Homo sapiens: one gene and its partners. The protein of the gene in region 5 purifies or fractionates together with the protein of the main gene of each other region. This does not show direct contact. Each region holds a gene or a part of one and is shown on either strand. Other genes may lie near its edges.

Region 1 (3,500 bases), on a different chromosome or scaffold from region 5:
GATAAAGTTTGTGTTGAGTACATCTAGGCTGGGTGTGGTAGCTCACGCCTGTAATCTCAGCACTTTGGGAGGCCAAGGCAGGTGGATCATCTGAGGTCAGGAGTTCGAGACCAGCCTGGACAACATGGTGAAACCCTGTCTCTGCTAAAAATACAAAAATTAGCCAGGTGTGGTGGCAGGCGCCTGTAATCCCAGCTACTCAGGAGGCTGAGGCAGGAGAATCCCTTGAGCCTGGGAGGCAGAGGTTGCAGTGAGCCAAGATCGTGCCATTGCACTCCAGCCTGGGGTATAGAGTGAGGCTCTGTCTCCAAAAAAAAAAAAAAAAAAAGTACATCTAAATGGTACGATGCCCATGTTGGCCTATTTGGAATGCCATTCCTTGTCCCACAGAGCCCTGCTCCTCAGAGGCACTTTTCCTGGAGTGACTCTCCCCTTCCTCACCTACACTCACTGTCATTCAGCTGTAGATGCACCAGCGATCATGCTAGTGGTTAAAATATCGAAATACTCCCATCCTGGCTAGAGAATAGCTGCTACCCAAGTGCCCCCGCCCTTCATATGGAAACTAAAGGGTTAATACATGGGGCAGTAGAGGAACTTTGGAGCCCTGTTTTGGTGCACTGGCCTGTGTCTTTTCTGGCTGGTTGGTGTCTGGCCGTACTGGCTATTAAATATTTTGATGAGCATCCCAGCCTCTGTCCCACGTGCATCTTTTCATGAGTGCATATCTGGCTTCCACAGATTGGCACCCCAGCCACACTCTAAGCTCTGGGCACATGGGAGACCTAGTCATTGTCATCTCTGTGTTTTCAGCAGCGTTTAATACAGGGCCTTACCGCTAGTAAGCATGTAAGATTATCTAATGATGGATTGAGGGTAGGGCAGGTTCCGATGGTCAGATGTCCCATAGAAGGTGGTCCCTAACAAGAATATACATTGTAATGTTCCAGGTTTGTCTATTCTGATACTGTGCAAAACGTAGATCTTATAGCCAAGATCAAGGCATCGAAAGTCTGTGGACCTAAGCCTGTGCTTTCACTGAGTGAAGTTTGTGTTTCGGAGTACATCTGAGGTGTTTCTTTCCGTGTAGTTTCACTTGTGTTGGAGAAGCAGGTGGCTGTGGTCTTTGCAGGGTGTGAGAGGGGAGGAGATTAGTGTTGAGCTCCAGCTAATGTTACATAACTCTACTGTAGTCTTCCTTTACCTGGTATTCTTGTGTTCAAATTGCCCCTTGTTTCTGTGCCACTAGTGAAATGGTCAAATGGCTCATTGTTCCTTCTGTAGGACAGTTACCTACATTGCGCCTCAGGCAAGCTTCTGAGGCATCCCAGGATGGGGAGCTGGCGGGGGACCTTATCTGTCAAGCAGCCCAGCCAGGCACCTCACAGTGGACGGAACTGAGTTCTTGAGGGGGTGGCTGAGCAGCCCAGACTCCCAGGTTAGACTCTGAAGACAGCCAGTCTGTGCTTTTCTCTCCTGATGTGAGTCAGAGGCAAACTCTGCCGATGCCAAGACCTCCCTAGAGTTCAGGCAGGGTGAAGATCCTTGTCCTTGGGGTCAGGGCTGAAGCTTCAGGGTGTCCAGGACAGACCTTCAGAGGAGGCCAGCCCTGGAGCCTGGCGTGGGTCTCGGCCTCAAGCCTCTCTGTCCTGCAGAGAGGCCGGCTCAGTCTCTTCACCCTCTCAGGCAGGCCAGGCGACGGTCACCAGTAGCGTCCTGCTCTCTCTGGCATGCTTCCCTTCATCACTGGGTGATGCTGAGTGTCTTTTCCTCCCTCTTTGATGTGACAGTCCCTTTTTGCAGGCTTTTGCAGGCACTGTCCCTCTGCCTCCCAGGTGTGGCACGCATTTCAGGGTGCCTCCATTAGCAGTTTCATGCATTGTTGCCCATGGTGGGGAACAGATGGAGACACAAGGCAGGCAAGCCACCAAAGAGGCTGCAGGGCTGCTCAGGAGATGGAAGGACTGTCTCCAGAGTGGGGTGTATGCCCCATAGTGGCTGCCTAGACCATCCATTAGATTGTAGAATAGAATAGAAACATTAGAACTTCTATGGATAGTTATTTTTTGGCCATCTTTTAAATTCATATTTGTGTGTTTTCTAATGGTCAGAAAATACTTGTATATGGTTTATAGATAAAAGCATTTAATGTGAGGGGTGCATTTATTTATTGGGGTACATCATCAGAAGTCTAGAGAACCAGAAAGTTAACTCCTTCTCTAGCACCAGTATCATGAGAGACCTCTGAATGCCATTTTTTAAAAAGGAAAGAATTTGTCAATTAAAGGGGAATAGAAACTGCTCTCTGGCTAGGTTGTGATTCATGTCAAATAGGCCTGTGACTTAAGGAGAGTCAGGTTAACTCCAGAGTATGTTTTGTCTCTGGTCCCAAAACTTAGCAGTGTGGAAGCCTCATTGGGATCAGGGTTTTATTTTTTTCTCTTTTGTTTACTATCATATCCCCTGAGGCTGGAGCTGACTTGCATATCCTCAATATTTGCAAATTGAATATATGGGCGTTTTTCTTGCATGATAATTAAGTATTATGCTGAGTTGGATGCTTCAAGTCAATATTCAGGTTGCCTCCTTTTGTTTAAACCTTTGGGCAGTTGGCAAGATGCAGCCTACATGCCAGTCAGTTTTACTGTCCTGCACATGATACCCCCACGCGGTAGAACCATAGAGCCGTGGAGGCCTCAGAAATGTCACCTGAGAGACAGGGTGTTGGGATGTAACTTAAAGTAATTTTTTAAGAAGTGGGTATAATGAAACAGCAAAACGTTGATCATTACTGAAGCTGAAGTTGGAGTCACGGGTACATAAAATATAGTTTTATTATACTTCTGTGTCTACTTTTGAATAGATTTGAATTTTCATAATAAATTTTAAGTGAAACATAAAGGGAATATAGAGACCCCAAACTAGTATCACCCATTCCGAGCAGGTAATGGCCGAACTGCATAGTCTCTTTTTCTTTCTGTCTTTTAAACACTGGTCATTATTCTATAATCTTCTGCAACTTGTTAGGTTTGTTTTGATTTTGGCTTCCCCAGAGCCAGTCACCTCTTTTTATAGTTACCTGAGCTCTTTGTGTAATTTTAGCTCATGTCTCGTGGTTGTCACCAGTACCTCTCTTCTCCTTCCCAATACGATGAGCTAAATCCTGGTTAACCTTTTCCCTATTTCACTTGTTGCTTCCTCCAACACCACTGAGGTCTTCCACATGACAGGCACAATTCAGAGGCCAGAACAGGGTCCCATGTTTTTTGCAGGCTGCGTCCAGTCCTGGGGAACCTCATAGCCTGTGATTATCTTCTAGATTCCATTCATGTCTGCTTTTTTTTTTTTCTTTTGGATGGCGTCTCTGTTGTCCAGGCTGGAGCGCAGTGGTGCCATCTTGGCTCACTGCCGCTGCGCCCCCCACAGGTTCAATCGACTCTCCTGCCTCAGCCTCCGAGTAGCCGGGACTACAGGTGTGTGCCATCACGCCTGGCTAATTT
Region 2 (3,500 bases), on a different chromosome or scaffold from region 5:
TTATCTCATCTTCTGATTATCTGTATTTTATAGATGAGGGAGATAAGACTCAGAGAGATATAACTTGCCCAAGGTCACACAGCTAGGAGGGGACAGGTCAGGATTGGCAGAATCAGTCAGTAAATGTTAATTGAGCATCTGCTTGATGCCAGGCACTGTAGTAAGTGCTGGGTGTTCAATATTGACAAGAAAATTCAAGTCAGACCTCATCTATTTTCTAGAGATTGTCAGTTTATGTAAGAAGAGCCAGTGAAGAAAGAAAAAGATTAGTTGGAGAGATTTCTGTAGATACTGAGGAATACACTGTTTAGAGAAACCTGGGATAGAGTTTTAAAGAGGTGGTGGTTAGCAACAAAGTATATAGCTGAGAGACTCAGAACGATTGAGAAGAAACCATTGAGTTAAGTAAGTAAAAAAGTAATGTGAATTTAGTCACAAGAAAGCTGGAATGAAGATATTAATGTTTGGGCTGGTAGTTAATTGTGTTTAGTGGCAGGTACTCTATACAAATTTAAATATTTTCACAGTTATGGTCAGATTCATAGGAAAGATGATGGTATGACCCCTTGTAATGTTTTAATCTTTGGCTGGAAGATCATGGATGCTTTAAAATGCTTGCACTTTTTAGTTTTTTCAAATTTAAAAAAATGAGCAGGCAGACCGCCTGAGCTCAAGAGTTCAAGAGCAGCCTGGGCAACATGGCAAAACCCCTTTTCTATCCAAAAAAAAAAAAAAAATTAGTTGGGCAAGGTGGTGTGCACACCTGTAATCCCAGCTACTTGGGGGGCTGAGATGGGAGCCTGGGAGGTTGAGGCTGCAGTGAACCTTGATCATGCCGCTGTACTCCAGCCTAAGTGACAAAGTGAGACCCTGTCTCAAAAAAAAAAAAAAAAGTGAGCATTATTTTTATAATTAGTGGGGACAAGCATTCAACTGAAATGAGCTAATACTCAGGAAAATGTGGGTAGGCTAGTCTGAACTTGGGGTAGGAGAGAAGATAGTCTTATTTCAGTCCCTACTTGGTAAGAGCCACCTTGGTAGGTGTGTTCCTATCTTGGAAATGACTGGATTGTCACTGATGGAAACTGAAACTGTATGTACTGAAAGGTGGTATTTGCTTAACCTGAAGGATCAAGTTACTAACCCACCCTGAATGGTGGAGATACAGTCTTTGTTTTCCTGAACACTTGTTTTCTTAGAGTTTAATACATGAATTTAAGGTTTAAAAAAACCCAACAAACCACTGATAGAATTGTGTCATTTTAACTGCTTCTTTTGGCTTTATATCCTTCTTCCTACACATTGGTTCTATAGTTCCTCTCATTAATGGGTTTGCAACAGGCTTAGAGTTTCAGTTCAGTAAGACAAAATGGAAGTGCTGGATTTAGATATAGCTGATCAACTTAAACACTTATAAATTCACCATTGTTTTCGGTTCCCAATTTGAAGAGTGGAGACAGAAGTCAAGAAAATAAGCTTTTCTTATTCAAAGAATGATTCCCAAACCAATAGGATTTGCCCTAGGATCAGTACAGACTTATTACAGTCTCCTAAACAGAGAGGAAAGAGTTGCGTAAATTCATCTAGCTTTTAGTTTAATTTCACTTAGCCCATAGGGATTCTGAGAGGAAACGATATTAATGTGATTCCTATTTCATCTAGGCACTGTAGCATAATCCTTCAACAAATTACCACATTTGATTCTCATATAATTCTCTAAAATGTGAATACCATATTACAGATGAGGAGAGTGAGACTCAGAGAAGTTAGTAACTTTCCAAGGTTGGAGAGCTAAGTGACAGAGCTGGGATTCAAACCTTTCTTTGTCTAACTCCAAAACTCCATGCTTGTGAAACTAATAGCACGGAGGACTGATTTATACCTTCAACTGAAAAAAAATGCCACAAGCCTTAGGTATTTGTTACCTTAGAAGATGAGACTCTTGCTCTGAGTGTTTGTGCTCTGTGACACTGCCTCTAAATAAATGACAGTGATTTTTTAGTGTCTAATAGGATACCTTATATTTTCTTGCTTTAGAGATGTATGTTTTCATATTTTAGAATTTTTTGAAGATGTATATTGTCTATATTTACTTCAAAATGTTTGTGAAATGGTTACTATGTCTTAAATGTATCTCAAAATTGATGAAGCATGGCATATGCCTGTAGTTTTCACACATAAGTATCTTACCAATTTGTTGTGCACTTTTTCTTCCCAGCCTTCCCCATCTTATCCTATTATTTTTTTAAATATGATTTAATAAATAATTGAAATATATACTACCAATAAAATAACTCATTCTCTTTCATTAGTTAACATTACAGTGTACAGAAAAGCATTATGATGTAGAAAATTCAAATTGGGCCGGGTGCGGTGGCTCACGCCTGTAATCCCAGCACTTTGGGAGGCCGAGGTGGGCGGATCATGAGGTCAGGAGTTCGATACCAGCCTGGCCAATATGGTGAAAACCCCATCTAGTAAAACTACAAAAATTAGCCGGGCGTGGTGGCGCCCACCTGTAGTCCCAGCTACTCGGGAGGCTGAGGCAAAAGAATTGCTTGAACCCGGGAGGCAGAGGTTGCAGTGAGCCAAGATAGCGCCACTGCACTCCAGCCTGGACAACAGAGCAAGACTCCGTCTCAAAAAAAAAAAAAAAAGAAAAAAAGAAAATTCAAATTGAACTGTGAATCAGCAGATCTGAGCTTTAATTTTGGTTTTGTTAGCTACTTGATGTGTAACTTGCTAGGCAAGTCACTTCCCCTCTATGGGCTTTAGTTTCCTCATCTGTAAAATGGAGGGGGAGGAGAAATTTTAAGCCCGTCTTCCTTGAATAGGTTGTATGCCTTCTTTCTAATTAAAAACATAGATGCCCTAGATGCCTTTCTTAAAAACTGTATTACTGCATTTTACAATATTTTCTTTTAATCTTCCTTCTTTCCCTTCTTAATTTAGTAGAGAGGATAAATTATTTTTGGTATCCTACATTTACCAGGACAGCATATCTTAGGAAGCAGGGACCCAGAAAATAATGAATGAGTGAATATATGTTTTATTTGAGCTAATGAAAAATTTTTTAAATAAAGTACCGTCAAAAAGATGTTGAAGTTTCATTGAAAAGTAGTTCTACCTAAAGAATGAAACGTGTTTAGTAAAGTTCAATTGGTCTGTTCTGTATTGGATAGATGTACAAAGAAGAACACTCTTGAACTTGTCTTTAAGAAGCCCTCTTACTAGTAGGAGAGGCAAGCTTCTAAACTTTGTATTATGGAAAATTGACAGCAATAATACACACATCACCAACTTTAAGAGTTACTAACTTGTGGTCAGTCTTGCTTCATCCATACCTCCATCCACTTCCTTCTTTATTTTGAAGCAAATCCCTAGACTTTTTTTTTTTTTTTAACCAGTTGTTACCATGCAGTGTGATAAGTATAATAATAGACATGTTAATCCAAGTGAGGTGCAAATTTGTTCATATAAATATATTTTGAGACTTGAGC
Region 3 (3,928 bases), on a different chromosome or scaffold from region 5:
GTCCCCAAGCCCTGGGCCGCGGACCGGAACCAGACAGTGGCCTGTTAGGAACCAAGCCGGATAGCAGGAGGTGAGCGGCGGGCGAGTGAGCATTATCGCCTTGAGCTCTGCCTGCTGTCAGATTAGCGAGTGGCATCAGATTCTCATAGGCACGCGAACCCTATTGTGAACTGCACATGTGAGGTTTGCCGGCTCCCTGTGAGAATCTAATGCCTGATGATCTGAAGTGGAACAGTTTCATCCCCAACCCACACACACCCCCACCCCGTCCGCTGGGTTAGAGGACTTTACAACCCTAGTCCACCTTGTCCAGTTATAGTTCCACCTCTAGCCTTTCAAGGCTTAAACCATTAATGTCCTTAATTTCTCTTGTATTCATCTATCTCCCAACTATACCTTTTTCCTTCCCTTTTTTATTTTTGGCAATATGTGCCCATGGTTTTTTAATTTAAAACGAACAGAATATGTAGTGACGCCTACCATAGCACTCCTTCCCATCACACAAGCCTTCAAGGAAACTGAAGTACTTACTTTGGTCTCCCTGGAGGATTCCCTCCGCCTCCCGCCCCATGTGCTTAGCAATTCTGTTCCTGTAGTCTGGATGGCCTTCATAAAGCCCTCACTGGACCAGCATTCTGGCACATAATAGGAACACTTAAAAAACGAGAGAATGATGCCGTTATATCTAATATCTTCCTCTTCTGAACTTTCACAGCACTTTATTTGCAACAAGTTTAGTTGCTCCTGAAGGGCAGGATCTCTGCCGGAAGCAAGTGCGTGCCACACAGTGGGGCTCCGCATACACTGCAAAAGGACAAATAAACCGAACAGCTACCGTTTGAGAGTGAGCGAGTGGGTTCTCTGCACAAGAACAAACCAACCAGTCCCTTGTCCGAAAGGGCGTCTCCTTTTCTCTGCTTCGCTGCTCACTCCAGACTGCGGGCTGTCCTCTTCCGAAGCAGTTAACCAGCAGTGTACAGAAAGCGACTTGCCTCCAAAGGAGCCTGCGCGGCCCGCGGCTAGGAGAATTTTGTCCCATGCGCTCCCCGTCTCACTAGCCGCGGGCCGGGGCTACGCCGTGTGCGTCCCCGCGCAGCCGCAGTGCTGGGCGAGTGGGCGGGGCCGGCTGTTGGCGGCGGTTGGCTCGGCGCGGGAGTCGGCTGCACGTGCGGGCGGGGGCGATGCGTCACTGATCGGTGAGGCGCGGCCGAGGGGTCGGCTTTCCTCGCGAGCCTGCGGCTGGGCTTCTTCTCAGTTAGTGCCTTCCACCCGGGAGCGACCCTTGGGAGAGGGAGTTTCAGGAAGCTCACCGAGCAGGGGCGGCCCACTGGCCTCCGGGGGCGGAGGAGTTGGCAAGGGGTCAGCGGGCTCAGCCAGAAGGGAAGAATGAGGGGACAGGGGTACTGGACTCCCCGGCTCAGCCTGCGAGAGAGCGCCAAGTTTCCGGAGGGAGAGGGTAGAAACTGGAGGGGGTGGACCTGTCACTCACGGGACTGAGGGTCCTTTTCTCCCGCTCCCAGGAGGAACGAGAATGAATATGACTCAAGCCCGGGTTCTGGTGGCTGCAGTGGTGGGGTTGGTGGCTGTCCTGCTCTACGCCTCCATCCACAAGATTGAGGAGGGCCATCTGGCTGTGTACTACAGGTGAGCGGCATGTGCAGTCAGTTAGGGCTCTAGAGCAGATTAAAAGGGTACTCCAGAGTGGAGTCTGGGAAGTTGTTCCCTCTGCAACGTTCGGGGGCGCATGTCCCATCTCTAGGGAGAGCACGGGGGTCGAAGCGGGCTTTTGCGGAGCACCCTCCAGATGTTGGACAGTTTTAGTGCTATGTTCGTTTTGTTGCAGAGATTAAGTCTCCCTACGGTTATTCCTATACACAGCAAACTCAATTATTTGTAGAAAAATGAAGAAGGAAGAAAGGAAGTAGTCACTCTACCTCTAACTGAAGAGATGGATAAATTATAGTTCGTTCAACTGTACAGGCTTTAGTTTGCCGCTGTAGATGCTGTATGTTTATGGTTGTTTCTTAGACTTTTTCATTTAAAAGCTTCCAGTGTCTGGTTACGTCTTGTAACACCATGATGACTGTGATGGTGCTTATGTCCCTGGACCTCCAGGGACATAAGCACAACACTGATGGGCCATGCTCCTCCCTCCTTACTGTTGCTGTTCAAGTTGGGGACAGGAGTGGTGTGGGAGCTGTTGCTCTCTTGTTGAGCTCGCTTAGCTTTTCCTTCAGCCTAATTACCACAAGTTCCTTTTGATACAGACTAGTAAGAGAGGCCAGTTTGTGGAGAAATTGGGATAATGGTGTATTCAAAAAGAGCGTCAACTTTTTGCTTGTTTCCACTATCCCTCAAAACTGATATTTCTACTTTCAAATCCATCCTGAATCCTAGAAAAAGAGCAATTTTAATGGTATATCTTAGCAGATGGAGCTCTACATAAGAAATTACAGATTAGTCCAGATTTCCTTCCAGTTTAAAAGCATTGTCTTTCTGACAGTAAAACCAGAGAAAGGACATTTCAAGGAATGACTCAAAGAATTAGTAATGAACCTCAAACAGTTCATCTTTCCTTGTTATTATGACCTTGCAAATGTGTTTATATTTTCAAGACCGGTAGCTAAGTTCTATGAATTTACAAGGTGCAAAATAGGACTTTGTTTTCTTTGCTCCCCAAATGCCTCCTTTTTATAATTTCCAGGGCTTGCTTTCATAGTTTTCACATTCCAGGATTTGGTTAACAAGCCCTTATGCTATTTATTTGTATAGTCTTGTCACCCTTCATCTTTTCATGCTAATTTTTTGTTTTTATATAGAAATTTTATGTTCCCAGTATTTTAATTACCTTGTAGATAGATCGAAAGAATTATAAGCCTCAGAAATTTTCTCTTTACTTCAAAGTTTGCATTGTCTTTTTTTCAACCTGGTGATTAAATGTATTATATATTTTGATTTGGCTCTTGTTATGTACTATTAATGTACCTCTACTGAAAGCCATTAGAATTTTTTAAACAAATATTTCTCAGAAGGTTAAAGACCGAGGAGAATCCTTTGAACCTTAGAGCAGTGCTGGAGACCCAGAGGTACGGTTGGTTGAGCTTATGAAACAAGGTGTAACATTGGCAGTTTAATTTGATCTTTTTCCCTTTTTAGGTGTGGAGGTATTTTAAGCAGTTGTTCATTATGAGCAATTCATATTAGTGAGGCTTTAGTAGGTCAGCAGCATGAGCAAGAGTGAGTATTTATTATAGCATTTTAGATTTGGAAAGATAATTTTTCTTTTTATAATTTTGTCAAATTGAAACATCTTTTTGCAGGGGAGGAGCTTTACTAACTAGCCCCAGTGGACCAGGCTATCATATCATGTTGCCTTTCATTACTACGTTCAGATCTGTGCAGGTGAGTGATTCCTAGGGGAAGCCTCCATACCAGATAGACAGGCATGACAGGAGTTACCACACTTGTGGGTGGAGATAGATTTCCTTATTGCTTAAGCAGATGGTGGTATTTACTTAAATGCAGAAGTTAACGTTCAGAGTACAGTTGTTACAACACAAGTTATGATGTTAAACCACCTCACTTACTTGAAATGAATTAAAGGTATGAACCAGGAAGCTTGGAAGGACTGACTTCTACCATCTATATCGTGGTATATAGCAAATTTTCTGTTGCTGCTGTCACAATAAAAGTAAGAATTAGAAACACAACTAGACATACAAACCAGTGATTATGTGGTTTAGAACAGTGTTTAGTTTCCATAGAGGCAGGCTCCTGGGCTACTGTTAACATGGAGGATCAAAATTTTTATACACAGCCTTTCTGCCTCATGTTTTTTTGCCTGGTATATTAAGCACAATTTTATGTGGAACCTTAGTGAATGTTATATTTTGATGGCATCCCGGGATATTTGAAATAAGTGTCTAAT
Region 4 (3,500 bases), on a different chromosome or scaffold from region 5:
GAGAGAAAGAGAGAAATGTGGGGAATATAATTCCCCAGAGAGAAGTGCTTAATGGAGACGTTCAGCAAGTATCAATAGCAATAACTGGGAGTGACAGTCCTAGAAGTGGCCGGGTTCATCTGGGCAAGGAAAGGCTTTCCCTATAGGTGCAGTAGCCACATTTCCCAAATCCTAAGTCAGGACTCATCATCTGCTGAAAACAAGTGTGCTTCTAGAAACAAAGGAATAACAGATGAAGTTGGGGCTGCTCCTGGATGGGTCCCTTGTGGTTTCCGTGTCCAGCTTTGTCCACTTCAAATCAGGACACAGCGGGCAGAAGTGATCATAGATTCATCAAGGGCATGGCCGCCAGGCAGCCCCAGGGACAATGGGTCCCACCCACATCAGCCTGTGGAGAAGCTGCAGGGGCTGTCTGCTGCCTGGGTGGGGTCCCAGCACAGGCACTAGGCTCTGCCCAACCAGGGCCTCTGCCTTCCTCTAGTCTATGCAGCATAGAGTGGAGACGGCCCTGTGGCAGGGGCTCCGCAGGCTCACCGAGTTGCAGGCGTTGGCTCTCTCCACCTTCGAGAGGCTTCTCACATCCGTGTTGAACACATTCATCTTCTCCACCAGGGTGGTGAGTGCTGTCTCGGTGGCCTCGCCGACCTTCTCATAGACACCTTTGGCCTGAGATGGGCAGAGGAGGAAGAGGAAGTCGGTGCCCCAGGCTCCTACCTGTCATACCCTCCTTCCACCTAGCGTAAGAAGGAAGCAAACCACTGCCTCCCTTGCACCCTGGCAGAGGGCTGGGTGTACTGGGTCCCCTTCCTCCAACCCTTTCCTCCTGGCCTTCGGAGGAGGCCCAGACTCTGAGCCAACTGGAAGGGGAAGGAGAGGTTACCTCGTTGAAGTCCAAGGAGGAGTCATTGCAGAGGGCACAGATGGTGGCCAGCTCCACCAGCCCGTCATACTGCCCTGGCCGGACTGGCTTATCATTCTTCAAGCTGGCAGCAGGGTCAGGGGAGGAAGGGACAGAGACAGTGGAGAAGAACAGGGAATGAGATGCAGAGAGGGCACAGGAAGAGCAGGCAGCAGAGGGTAAGGAAGGACAGTGGGGAGAGCCAACTCGGATATCAGGAGAGAGAACAAGGTCGGGGAGGAAGAGGAGAGTGAAAGGAGAGCAAAACCACATGGAGGGCCCCAGGGAGAAAGGGGGTGTGGGAAGGGGCGTGAGGAGCTGGGGAGAAGATGCCTGGGTGACTTACACCTCTCCCTCTGGAGCGTAAGTGGAGCCGGTGATGGAGAACTCATTCAGGAGGCAGATGTCCCCATCCACCTTGTCAATGATAAACATCTGCAGGGGAGAAGGGCAGGCACACAGATGTCCACCTCTTCCCATCCCAAGGTGGGCACCTGCATCAAGGGAGGCCTGCACTGCCAACACCTACCTTCCCACCATTTCCCTCCTACTCACCCCTCCTCATCCCCCCCGTATACCCTACCCACTTCCCACCAAGCTGTTGCAATCATTCTCTATCAACAGCCTTAAAACAATAGTTACTGAGGCTGGGCGAGGTGGCTCACACCTGTAATCCCAGCACTTTAGGAGGCTGAGGTGGGCGGATCACCTGTCAGGAGTGCAAGACCATCCTGGCCAACATGATGAAACCGTCTCTACTAAAAATACAAAAATTAGCCAGGTGTGGTGGTGCGCGCCTGTAATCCCAGCTACTCTGGAGGCTGAGGCAGGAGAATCGCTTGAACCTGGGAGGCAGAGGTTTCAGTGAGCCAGGATCGTGCCATTACACTCCAGCCTGGGCGACAAGAGCCAAACTCAAAAAAAAAAAAAAAAACAAAAAAAAACCCACAAACGAGTGACCGCAGGCTGTGCTGTGCTGGAGCTTCTGTAGACCAGTTAATAAAATAAGATGGAACACAATAAGGTATGGTGGGGACTGTGGCAAACAGCCCAACTATTGGCACCTGGACCATCTACAGCTCCAGCTGCATGTGGCCAGATCTTCCAGTTTTGCAGGAAGAGCTAGAAATTCAGGTTATCTTCCTATGAAATCTCTTGACTTTTTCTTTTTCTTTTTGTTTTTTAAGATAGGTTCTTGCTCTGTTGCCCAGGCTGGAGTACAGTGGTGTGATCATAGCTCATTGCAGCCTCAACCTCCCGGGCTCAAGTGATCCTCCCACCTCAGCCTACCCAAGTAGTTGGGGCCACAGGCACATGCCACCATGCCTGTCTCTCTTGCTCTCTCTCTCTCTCTTTTTTTTTTTTTTTGGTAGAAATTGGGTCTCACTATGTTGCCCAGGCTGGTTTTGAACTCCTGGGCTCAAGTGATCTTCCTGCCTTGGCCTCCCAAAGTGCTGGGAGTACAGGCACCCACCATGATGCTGGGAGTACAGGCAACTACCATGCCCAGCCTCTTGACTTTCAAATATATGGGCAATTCTTTTTTTTTTTTTTGGAGATGCAGTTTCACTCTTGTTGCCCAGGCTGGTGCAATCTCGGCTAACTGCAACCTCCGCCTCCTGGGTTCAAGTGATTCTCCTGCCTCAGCCTCCAGAGTAGCTGGGAGTACAGGCATACGCCACCACGCCCAGCTAATTTTGTATTTTTAGTAGAGACGGAATTTCGCCATGTTGGCCAGGCTGGTCCCGAACTCCTGACCTCAGGTGATCCACTCACCTTGGCCTCCCAAAGTGCTGGGATTACAGGCGTGAGAATTAATTCATTTTTATGAAACATGACAGGAGCCAAGTCACACGAGCCTGTGGTCTGGCTTTGTGGCCTGTGCGTTAGAGGGATGTGGAGAACGCAGTGCCCAGGAGGAGTGGCCTACCCTGAATCCTGGGCAAACGCAACAGAGACTGGGCTTTTCATTCCCGAGAAGAGAGATGGTTAAGATGGGTTCCAAGACAAAAAAGTTCTGTGGTCAGAAAAAAAACTTGGGAACCTCTGGGGCAAAGCAGAATCCGTCTTCTTTACACAGTCAGCCTCCTCTAAGGCTTTCAAATAGCAGCAGATGTTGTGGGTCTCGCCCAGGAGCCAAGGTTACAGCCTTTCTCACCCTGATCTGACCACACAGCCCTTGCTTCTCAGAACAGCAATTTCTAGTTCATGGGTGTAGTCTTCCACAAAACTCTGTGAAGGGCAGGGGTTCTTGGCCTGAGGTCAGTGGAAGACCCTGCAAGGAGCCCAAGAACTGAGATAGCCAAGAAAAAAACGACAGCTTTTCTTGTTCTCAAGCTGACGTTTGACATTTCCTTCCAGTTATGCATGTTGTCAACAGACCACATTAGTATTAGCAAAACCTGTGACTGTCACCAATTTAATCACAGATACTTTCCTCCTATCACATTACCACTGTTGCAGATCTCTCAAAATAGCATAATTTATGCTCACCACTGCTTCAACATTATGATAGTGCTTAGACCCACTGCGAGAACTCCCTAATTAATGCCTTAATAAAGAAGCATGTGTGTTGCCAAATTACAAAGTTGTTTTTAAAAAT
Region 5 (2,576 bases):
ACACGTGTCTCTCCAGGATGGGGTTGTCATAGTGCCTCTTTGGGCTTTAATGTGGACCTAAGAGGGCTGAAAGGTAGCCCTGGAGCCAGAGGCACACCCCAAACAGGCAGCTATTGAAATGTGGTGACTGCTAGCTCAGTCAGCCTCCAGATGCTCTCTGCAGCCTGTAGGGCTTGCTTGGAGTGTAGGGAGGAGTGCAAGAGAAGGTGGGGGAGTGGAGAAAGGCCTTCCCCAGAGCAGTGTGTCCTGCTGTCTGGCTTAGTGCCCTTCGAGTCCCTGTATCCCCAGCCTCAGCAGACTCGGGTCCCCACTGCTTTCTCCTTGGCCAGCTGGAGGCTGAGACCACAGGTCATCTCCCCTGGCCCAGGGTGCAAGGAAGGGGCACGAGGGCTCAGGATGAATGTAAACGCTCTATCTCTGAGCCTGGTGACCCAATGTTTCTGCCCAGCCTCCAGTGGCAAGGTGTGGGGGTGGCCCGGGCTGTCTTTTCCCGATGGTGGCTGTGTCCAGTGGAGGGCGTTTTGGTGTCGGCTGGGCTGGGCTAGCTTTAACAACAGGAAGTGGGAGGCTTCCCCGCCTCATCCGCTTACTGGGAACCAAAAGTAGGTGCCTGGCTGGGAGGAAGGAAGGAAGCTGAGGCCTGGGGGAGGGGCTGCAACTGGGGCTGCCTGGAGCTTCTCAGCCCTGCCCACCACCCCCTGGGTCAAGAGGGCTAGGGGTGCTGCCTCAGCATTTGAACTCCCCCAACGAGGGAGGGGAATAGAGAGAGGGAAGCAGGCTTCGCCAGGCTGGGCCTGGCTAGTGGGTACCTTTATCCTTCCTGAAAGCTCCTCCCCGTCTGGGTAGGGGGACCTTTTTCCTCATTTGACAAGTGAAGGAATTGAGGCCCAGGCATCCCTTAGGAGTCAGTGGGACAGGATCAGTCACCAGCTACACCCTGAAAAGGCCAAAAATAAAGCCAGCAGAAACAGACTGTCTTTGGATCACCTGGAGGTGGGTTTGGAGGCCAGGCGTTCCTCACATCCTGGTGTCACCACTGGAGGCTGGTCCCAGCACCCCCTTTTCCCACCCCCAATCTCGAGGTCTGACCACACAGCTCCTCATGAAGCTGCAATGTCTGTCTCCTTGCCAGATGATCCTGCCCCAGTGCCTTAGCCATGGGGCCCCCTGTCAGTCCCTGAGTCTGGAGGAAGCACCTACTGTATGCTTTACTCCTTGGTTGGGAGGGGATGGGAGAGGAAGCTCTGTCAGGACAAAGGCAACGAAGAACAGTGGGTGAACCCGTATGTCATCTTGTAGGAAGGCATTGATTGCGTGCTAGCTGTGTGCCTGGCTCCTGGAGGGTTCAGAGTCAGGGTGGTGGGGACATCAAGGACCCCATGGCTGCCTCTTGTGAATCTATGTCCCTGGCACAGCTGTGGCACACAGAGAGGCAGCTGCCCCGGGGTCCAGGAGAGATTACAGGACTGAGTTGTTCAGTAGCTCGGCCAGTATTTATTGAGCTTCTATGTGTCAGACAGAGGAGTCTGAGGGTGGCACTGGGGGAAGCTGGGAGGGTTGGAGGGGAAAGGGGACAGGAAGGTTGGCCCCATCCAGTCAGCTGTGGTAGGAGATATCACTGACACATGGGCCTCCTGAGGAAGGTCTAGCAAGTGGCAGGGGTGGGGCCCATTTAAGCACACCTCACTTATGAAGCCCCATCACAAGTGATAGTGTGGCCATCATCCCAGTCCATGTGTCTTAGGAGCTGGAGTTAAGGCCTTGGGGACTAGCTGGGCAGATGGCAGAGCGAAATGCAGGGCCAGGCCACCTACTTCCTTCCAGAGGAGCCTCCCTCAGGCCACTTTCCTAGAAGACTCTCAGGGACAACCCATGGGAGCGGCTCCAAGAGAACCAGCCCAGCCCCCAGTCCCAGGTCATGGCCTGGCAGCAGCGGGCGCTGAGCTAGGAGGAGCTTCTGTGTGGCCTTGGGCTTGCCACTTTGTCTCTGTGTCTGTTTCCTCGTTGATAAAATGGGCTTACTGGCCATGGTGCAGATGACCCAAGAGGATGCAGGTGACACCCGTGACAGCAGTCGTTAACGCACATGGCAGTGGTAGGACTAGCCATGATCACAGGCATTACAGTAGTTCATGTTTGTTGACCCCTCACTTGGCTCAGGTCCTTATGAGACCACTGTGCATAAATAGGCCCATTTTATAGATGAGGAAACAGACACGGGTGTCCAGTGCCTTGGGGCTAAAGTGTGCAGAGCCCTCTCCACAGCAGTGCTGTTGACCTCTATTCCAAGTTGCTGCCCTACCCACACTGGGCTTGGCCAGGTCCCTCAGGGGTCGGGCAAGACCAGCCAGCCACCATGCTGCCCTCTGTGCCCCAGCCCCACCTGCCCACCCATGTGGGAAGGCTCCTTGAAGGAGGCACCTCCCTGACCCATGCCAATGTGTTTCAGACGAAGCCCGCTCCAAGAAGTGTGGTGTCCTGGTGCACTGCCTGGCAGGCATCAGCCGCTCAGTGACGGTCACTGTGGCCTATCTGATGCAGAAGATGAACCTGTCACTCAACGACGCCTACGACTT
Region 6 (3,500 bases), on a different chromosome or scaffold from region 5:
TTCCCAGGCCTGTGGCAGGATCTGTGGACCTGTGTGTCCCCTGGGGTGTCTCATGGGGCTAAGGAGGGGACCTTTGTGCAGGTCTACGCACCCTGAGGTGTGCCCTGGGTAAGCTGGGGTGGTGTGGGAGGGCGTCCCTGCACCCTCATCTTGAGTCCAGGGGATGATAAGACAGTAAGTCCCGTGGAGAAAAGGAATGAGTCAGTCTTGTTTGCTGTTGTAACCTTAGCACCCAGCAACAATATTAGAGAAAGCAAGCCCAGGCCTCAGATGGCAGGGGTGGCCTGGTGCTGCTGATGTGGCTGGGCACCCCAACCTCTGGGAGCCTGCAGGCCTCGCCACGGCAGGAGATGCCTCTCCTGGGTCCCGGGCCTGCTCTATGGCCTCTCACAGGCTTTTTTTCTGCTCCTTCAGCTCAGAACCTGAGGACCCAGTCACGGAGCGGTCGGCCTTCACGGAGCGGGATGCTGGGAGCGGGCTGGTGACGCGTCTCCGTGAGCGGCCAGCCCTGCTGGTCAGCAGCACGAGCTGGACAGGTCTGCAGGACCCCTGGGGCACTTGGGGTTGGTGTGACGGGCACCTGGCCAACCTGTGTTCTCCTCACCCCTGCCAGTCCTGCATGCTCCCACCCTGCCACGGTCTCAATGAGAACGGGAGGGCCTGTGAGCTGGAAGAGGGGTGTCTAGAAACAGGCCCCTGACATTCAATTCTCTTCTCATAGAGGACGAAGACTTCTCCATCCTGCTGGCAGCTTTAGAAAGTAGGTGTGTGGCTGCGGTGAGGAGCTCTGGGCTTGTCGGGGGCCACTGAGCTGTAAGCTGCTTGCCTGGCCTGCAGCATGTTCCTGTCCCAGGCCACTGGGTGGGGCAGCCTGGGGACAGCGGGGGTGGTGGAAGTGGGCCGCCCTGAATCCCCAGTTGGGTCATTGAGTGACCAGGCCCTCAGGCTGAAATGCCCCCTCCAGGAGAGTATCTCACACAGGCTGGTGGCCTCCCCGCCAGAGCAGTGCTCTTTCTCCACCTGACCAGGTGACTCTGGCTATTGTTTATTTAAAAATTTTTTTCTGAATGGGCATGGTGGCTCAAACCTGTAATCCTAGAACTCTGGGAGGCCGAGGCAGGCAGATCATCTGAGGTCAGGAGTTCGAGACCAACCTGGCCAACAGGGCGAAACCTGTCTCTACTAAAAATACAAAAATTAGCTAGGTATGGTGGTGGGCGCCTGTCATCCCAGCTACTTGGGAGGCTGATGCACGAGAATTACTTGAACCCAGGAGGCAGAGGTTGCAGTGAGCTGAGATCGCGCCATTGCATTCCAGCCTGGGTGACAGAGTGAGAGTCTGTCAGAAAAAAAAAAAAATTCTATCAGAAATTCCATGTAGAATTGTTTCTTTTTCTAAACACAGAGTTTGAACAACTGACTCTTGATGGACACAACCTTCCTTCTCTCGTCTGTGTGATAACAGGTACTGCCTGGGACCCTGGGTGTCTGTTTGGTTGGGGGATGGCGGAGGGGGAGGGGCACGCAGCCTTTACCCTGTGCTTCCCATGATCTTGTCTCCTTAATCCTCACTGCAGCTCTGCCATAGGGTCTTATACTGCTTGACATGGGGGAAACTGAGGCTCAGAGGCAGGGCAGGGAGCCCAGATTTGAATCTGTAGATACCAAGCTTTCTACTTTTTCAGTAGTTTCCAAGCATCTTTTTTTTGTTGTTGTTACGTCATTGGTGTCTTTTTTTTTTTTTTTTGAGACAGAGTCTCTGTCGCCCAGGCTGGAGTGCAGTGGTGCGATCTCGGCTCACTGCAACCTCCGCCTCCCACATTCAAGCAATTCTCATGCCCCAGCCTCCCGAGTGGCTGGGACTACAGGTGCCCACCACAACTGCCTAATTTTTGTATTTTTAGTAGAGACAGGGTTTCACCATGTTGGCCAGGCTGGTCTTGAACTCCTGACCTCAGGTGATCCACCCGCCTTGGCCTCCCAATATGCTGGAATTACAGGCACAAATCACTGTGCCCGGCCATGTCATTGGTGCCTTAACCAAGCCTCTTAATTTTTCAAACGGAAGAGCCCCTGTCCCACAGTTACTGCTGCTGAGCCCTTTCAAGGTGACTCAGTGAGGAGGGAGAAAAGCGGAAGCGGTGTGGGAAGAGGCCGGGTCTGGGCCAGCTGCTGGTCCTGCTCTCCTCCCTCCTCTGGCCTCTAGGCTCCCAGGAGTGGTTTGGAACCCGCGCCATATGCTCTGGGGGCTGTGCCAGGGCAGGAGGAGTCCTCGTGTCCCCTGTGCACAACACAGACAAAAGGCTGGGTCCACCCAGTGGGCGGTCGGGTGCCAGGCCAGTGCTTACCCCGCCATGTTTGCAGCCCGAGGCCAGCTGGCTGCAGGTGAAAGGCTATGCGTCAGGGGTCAGGGTGCACACACCCCTGCAGGTCTCAGGGCTCCTGGGTTGCTTCTGGAAGGGCCCGGATGGGGCCTGACTGGAGCTGCTGAGGGGTGGAGCTTCTGGGAAAGGGATCCCTCCTAGGGGGGAGTGTCTTGGGCCTGGGGCCACGTGGCAGGGACAGAGATGGGTCCATGGCAGTGTCTGCTCTTCTCTGTGAAGGCAAAGGGCCTCTGAGGGAGTATTATAGCCGCCTCATCCACCAGAAGCACTTCCAGCACATCCAGGTCTGCACCCCCTGGCTGGAGGCCGAGGACTACCCCCTGCTTCTAGGTGAGAGGCCAGCAGGAGGCTCAGGGAGGAGGCGGGGGGAACAGGGTGGGCGGGATGTACTTTTTCTGAAAAGGTGGCTCTGGAGGCCACTGGGGGACGGGACCTGGGCTCTGGCTGAACTCCCAGGAGGAGGCTACTTCCTGGTGTGCCAGCCCCTCCCTGCCAGGTGGCCCCAGGGGCCGTTTACCAAGGGGTTTGAGGAGGCCACGTCCTTTCAGCCTGCCACGCCCTCCATTCAGTCCTCTTCCTTCCTGCAGGAGGGCTGGGCCTGGGGTTGGGGCCACTGTTGCCCAGGTGTGGGAGGGCAGTGGCTTTGGGAGGTACGGGGACGATGTGTCAAACAGCGTCGCCTCTCCCAGTGAGATGGTTCTCCTTTGCCTCCGTCTCTTTCCCCGTTGATTTCTCCAAGTGGGGAGTCGTGCCTTGGTCCTGATGCGTCTCTAGAGCTGCATCTTCCAGCTTCGAGTGAGCAGAGCAGTTGGAGGCTGAAGGCCTTTTCCTGGCAGGACTCTCCACCTAGTCTTTGTTTTAGACAGTCTCGCTCCGTTGCCTAGGCTGGAGTGCATGATCTCAGTTCATGCAACCTCTGCCTCCTGGGTTCAAGCGATTTTCCCACCTCAGCCTCCCGAGTAGATTACGGGATTACAGGAGCCCACCACAACACCTGGCTTATTTTTGTATTTTTAGTAGAGACAGGGTTTCACCATGTTGGCCAGGCTGGTCTTGAACTCCTGACCTCAAGTGATCCTCCTGCCTTGGCCTTCCTAAGTGCTTGGATTCCAGGTG
Region 7 (3,145 bases), on a different chromosome or scaffold from region 5:
AGCAGAGCTTTAGTTTATCTCAGTCCTGGATGGGAGAGAGAGGGAGGAGTAAAACTGGGCAAGACAAAGAGCCCTGGATCGTTGAATTGATAGTTTAATTTCTGCTGTTGGCTGTTAATAATTTGGATTATTTATGTTTATAAATGATACAGATCTGTTTACAAGGTTTGTAGATACTTTTTTTGTTCCTGTTCATAGATGGGAAGCTTCCTTATAACTGATGCAGAGAAAAATTAGTCCTTCAAATACTGCTGTATTTTCAGGAAAAAAAAAAAAAGGGGTGTTTCTATTGAAACTGTACTAAATTTTTGCCTACAATTTACCTTGTTAAATATTGTAGATAAATTGCTAATACTAATAGCCAAATAGATAACACTAATGCTTTGTTTAAAAAAACGAAAAAAACAAAACAAAACAAAAAAACATGAGCAGTGGTGTTCTAATGAAGTTATGACATCTGTCCTAATTAGTTTCTTAAATACATTTACTACTTAATGGTTTTGAAGCAACTGTTTAATTTTTAAAATTTTTGAAAACTTGCTAATAACCTTTTGTTCAGAATTTAGTAGATTGTTTAATGCAGGACATCAACTACATAATGAAAGATGCTTGAAATGCTTTTGTTATTTCAGGCAAATCAAATTAAATCAGACTATCAAACTACAAGAGAACCTTAGTCTTTTTTGTTTTTGTCTAAACATGTTAGTTTAGTGATGTCTTGGTGAACTGTGAGTGAACTGTATTGATTTTTCTAATCTTTAGAGACCTTCACACAGCATGAGGGCTGTTGGCATTTTGAAAAAGGTTAATAAGTAGAAGCATACATGTTTTCCTTTTGTTTTTGAAACTTGTTTGTAAACATAAATAAATATGCCCTTTTATTAAATAAATTCATGGCAATGTTTTTTTAAAAGACATTTCAGCTTCTTTACTCAGTTCTGCATATACAGTGCATCAGTCTGTTCTCTTTGACCACAATTGGAATACATTTCAAGATGGTAACAGCCCCATGAAGTACCGCTTTAATTCCTTGCTGGTAATCTAATAGAATCAGATTAAGAAAATTAACACAATTTTACCATTTGACATACTCTTCATTGAATTTAGTTTGTCTAAAATAGTCTCACAGGTAAAAAACATAACAACAATGACCACCATTGTCTTTGATACATTTATTTTAATTCTTAAGTGGCCAAATAACAGATTAGGTAAAATGAGATTACATGAAAAGGTTCTAAAATGATATATTTAGATGCAATAATTAACCATATGCTAGAATGCCCACCTCTAAGCCAATTGGATTCTTTAGCTCTCTTTTTCTTTCCTTCATCTACCTTCTTCTCTTTTTTGCCTCTGTCTTTACCCTTTAGAAACTGGCATGTGTTAGGGCCCAGATTTCACCAGATACACAATCCTCAGGCTGACATAAAGTTTACGAGGACTGCTACTATAACTGAGAGTGCTGACCAAGCAAAGAAACATTTAGTTGATGGTGCTTGATATTTTTGGTGGGTGGGGGAAATCTTTTTCTCACCATCAAATCTTTGCAGTAATCCTCTGCAGGTCTTAGAAACACATTGGCTCTGTCAGCATTTGTAATTGTACATTTATTCATCAGGTATTTATAGTGAATCATACTGTAAAAAAGAGGTAGCATGATATGCTGGAAAGCATATTAGACTAGGAGTCAAGACCTGGTTTCTAGTCTTGGTTTTGCCATTAATGTGCTGCATGATCTTGGGAAAATCATTTACCCTAAATAAGGGTGGTGGACTATCTTGAAGAACCCTTTCAACTCTAAAAATTGACCCTATCAACTGGAGAGCCCACAAGGCATAGGGAATAGAGAAAAGGGAAATGTTTTCAGTTTTCTTTTTTATTTTGGTTATGCTTAAATATGAATGTAATTACCAAAAGATTTAGAAGTGCATGTGCTTTGGAGGATTTGTATTGAGCTTTTACAGTATTCATTTTTCAACTCAAGGCAATGGCTTTCTACACCAACTCTAATCCATAAACGGGTCTTATGACATCTATGAAGTAGTAGCAAGACATGCTTAGTGTGTATTTCTCTCTTTGAGACACTGTAATTTCTACCAGAAATTTCCAGAGCATTATGTAGGTAGAAAAAAATGCAAGCAAGCTGTTAAAGATCTTGGATCCCATTATATAGTATGTATAGCTGAAATCTGTAATTCAATCACTTTTTCTCTTTTATCCTCTAACCAAAAAATTGTTTAATTTTGCATCCCAAATGTTTTTAATCTTTGTATATTTTTTAAAAATCCTTTTCTCCTCATCATTGCCTTTTTTGTGGTTGTAAATAGACTTACTTGCACTTTGAAGATGAGTTACTCCTTGTCATCTTACAAATATGTGATATGGTAATTTTCATAACAGATGTCAGTTTTGAACCAAGAATTGGTGATTTGTTTATAAGAAAAAAACTGGCTTCATTTCTGTGAAATTGCTCTTTGAAAATTTCTTTTTACACGTGTAAGCCAACTGAGATACCGTGATGGTGTTGATTTCTTTCAATGATGCTTACCATCTATTTTAGCCACTGAGCCTTTTATTATTTGTCTATTTGTAAAGTTTATTTGTCTTAACTCATTTAATAAATATACTGTTTATCTGTTTCTGAATGGGGACTGAACTTTTTGGATATTGATATTGATTTGAAAATATTTTGGAATTTTTTCTACTTGAAATTTTAGAAATCTAATTGAAAATTCTATAATGTACTTGAAATGTTATGGTTGTGTTACAGTGAATCACTCTTCTAATAATATGCATGATCTTGCCTCTAAAATGAGAGTGGGTACATTGTCCCTACTCTCCAACCCACTGTCCTCAACCCTTATAGCACAATAGATCATTTCTGCAGTCTATGGGAATGTAATCTGCTGGTTTTAGTACAGATTAGTTTTTCACATTAGCTGTAAGAGCTTATTTTTATTTCATTATCCATACTTGTCAATACCAGTTATCTGAACTCTATGGTAAAAATTAATAAAATTATCCATAGTTGTTTTTTATAATAAGTTATTAATATAAACTAGCAACTTTGTTGAAATACTGAGTAAACTTTAAATGATGATGAATACCATATTTTTCAGTTAGTATAAATCATTAGTAAATTATT

Evidence for each region.
Region 1: the proteins of DUSP7 (region 5) and ACSL1 purify together in Homo sapiens (affinity purification with mass spectrometry, with the first as the bait; one large-scale study listed by BioGRID). This does not show direct contact.
Region 2: the proteins of DUSP7 (region 5) and FAR1 purify together in Homo sapiens (affinity purification with mass spectrometry, with the first as the bait; one large-scale study listed by BioGRID). This does not show direct contact.
Region 3: the proteins of DUSP7 (region 5) and ERLIN1 purify together in Homo sapiens (affinity purification with mass spectrometry, with the first as the bait; one large-scale study listed by BioGRID). This does not show direct contact.
Region 4: the proteins of DUSP7 (region 5) and ATP2A1 purify together in Homo sapiens (affinity purification with mass spectrometry, with the first as the bait; one large-scale study listed by BioGRID). This does not show direct contact.
Region 6: the proteins of DUSP7 (region 5) and ALG1 purify together in Homo sapiens (affinity purification with mass spectrometry, with the first as the bait; one large-scale study listed by BioGRID). This does not show direct contact.
Region 7: the proteins of DUSP7 (region 5) and ATP2B1 purify together in Homo sapiens (affinity purification with mass spectrometry, with the first as the bait; one large-scale study listed by BioGRID). This does not show direct contact.

What each region holds. Positions count from the first base shown.
Region 1 is NC_000004.12:184,815,969-184,819,468, reverse strand, and holds part of ACSL1 (long-chain-fatty-acid--CoA ligase 1), read left to right. Parts: intron 1-3,500. UniProt on the Homo sapiens protein: Catalyzes the conversion of long-chain fatty acids to their active form acyl-CoAs for both synthesis of cellular lipids, and degradation via beta-oxidation. Preferentially uses palmitoleate, oleate and linoleate.
Region 2 is NC_000011.10:13,671,668-13,675,167, forward strand, and holds part of FAR1 (fatty acyl-CoA reductase 1), read left to right. Parts: intron 1-3,500. UniProt on the Homo sapiens protein: Catalyzes the reduction of saturated and unsaturated C16 or C18 fatty acyl-CoA to fatty alcohols. It plays an essential role in the production of ether lipids/plasmalogens which synthesis requires fatty alcohols.
Region 3 is NC_000010.11:100,183,230-100,187,157, reverse strand, and holds the start of ERLIN1 (erlin-1), read left to right. Parts: upstream 1-1,128; 5' UTR 1,129-1,531; coding exon 1,532-1,644; intron 1,645-3,320; coding exon 3,321-3,402; intron 3,403-3,928. UniProt on the Homo sapiens protein: Component of the ERLIN1/ERLIN2 complex which mediates the endoplasmic reticulum-associated degradation (ERAD) of inositol 1,4,5-trisphosphate receptors (IP3Rs).
Region 4 is NC_000016.10:28,891,988-28,895,487, reverse strand, and holds part of ATP2A1 (sarcoplasmic/endoplasmic reticulum calcium ATPase 1), read right to left. Parts: intron 1,334-3,500; coding exon 1,245-1,333; intron 984-1,244; coding exon 881-983; intron 667-880; coding exon 535-666; intron 1-534. UniProt on the Homo sapiens protein: Key regulator of striated muscle performance by acting as the major Ca(2+) ATPase responsible for the reuptake of cytosolic Ca(2+) into the sarcoplasmic reticulum.
Region 5 is NC_000003.12:52,050,996-52,053,571, reverse strand, and holds part of DUSP7 (dual specificity protein phosphatase 7), read left to right. Parts: intron 1-2,449; coding exon 2,450-2,576. UniProt on the Homo sapiens protein: Dual specificity protein phosphatase. Shows high activity towards MAPK1/ERK2. Also has lower activity towards MAPK14 and MAPK8. In arrested oocytes, plays a role in meiotic resumption.
Region 6 is NC_000016.10:5,078,343-5,081,842, forward strand, and holds part of ALG1 (chitobiosyldiphosphodolichol beta-mannosyltransferase), read left to right. Parts: intron 1-414; coding exon 415-536; intron 537-721; coding exon 722-760; exon of another isoform or gene 761-764; intron 765-1,405; coding exon 1,406-1,465; intron 1,466-2,603; coding exon 2,604-2,714; intron 2,715-3,500. UniProt on the Homo sapiens protein: Mannosyltransferase that operates in the biosynthetic pathway of dolichol-linked oligosaccharides, the glycan precursors employed in protein asparagine (N)-glycosylation.
Region 7 is NC_000012.12:89,587,549-89,590,693, reverse strand, and holds the end of ATP2B1 (plasma membrane calcium-transporting ATPase 1), read left to right. Parts: 3' UTR 1-2,645; downstream 2,646-3,145. UniProt on the Homo sapiens protein: Catalyzes the hydrolysis of ATP coupled with the transport of calcium from the cytoplasm to the extracellular space thereby maintaining intracellular calcium homeostasis.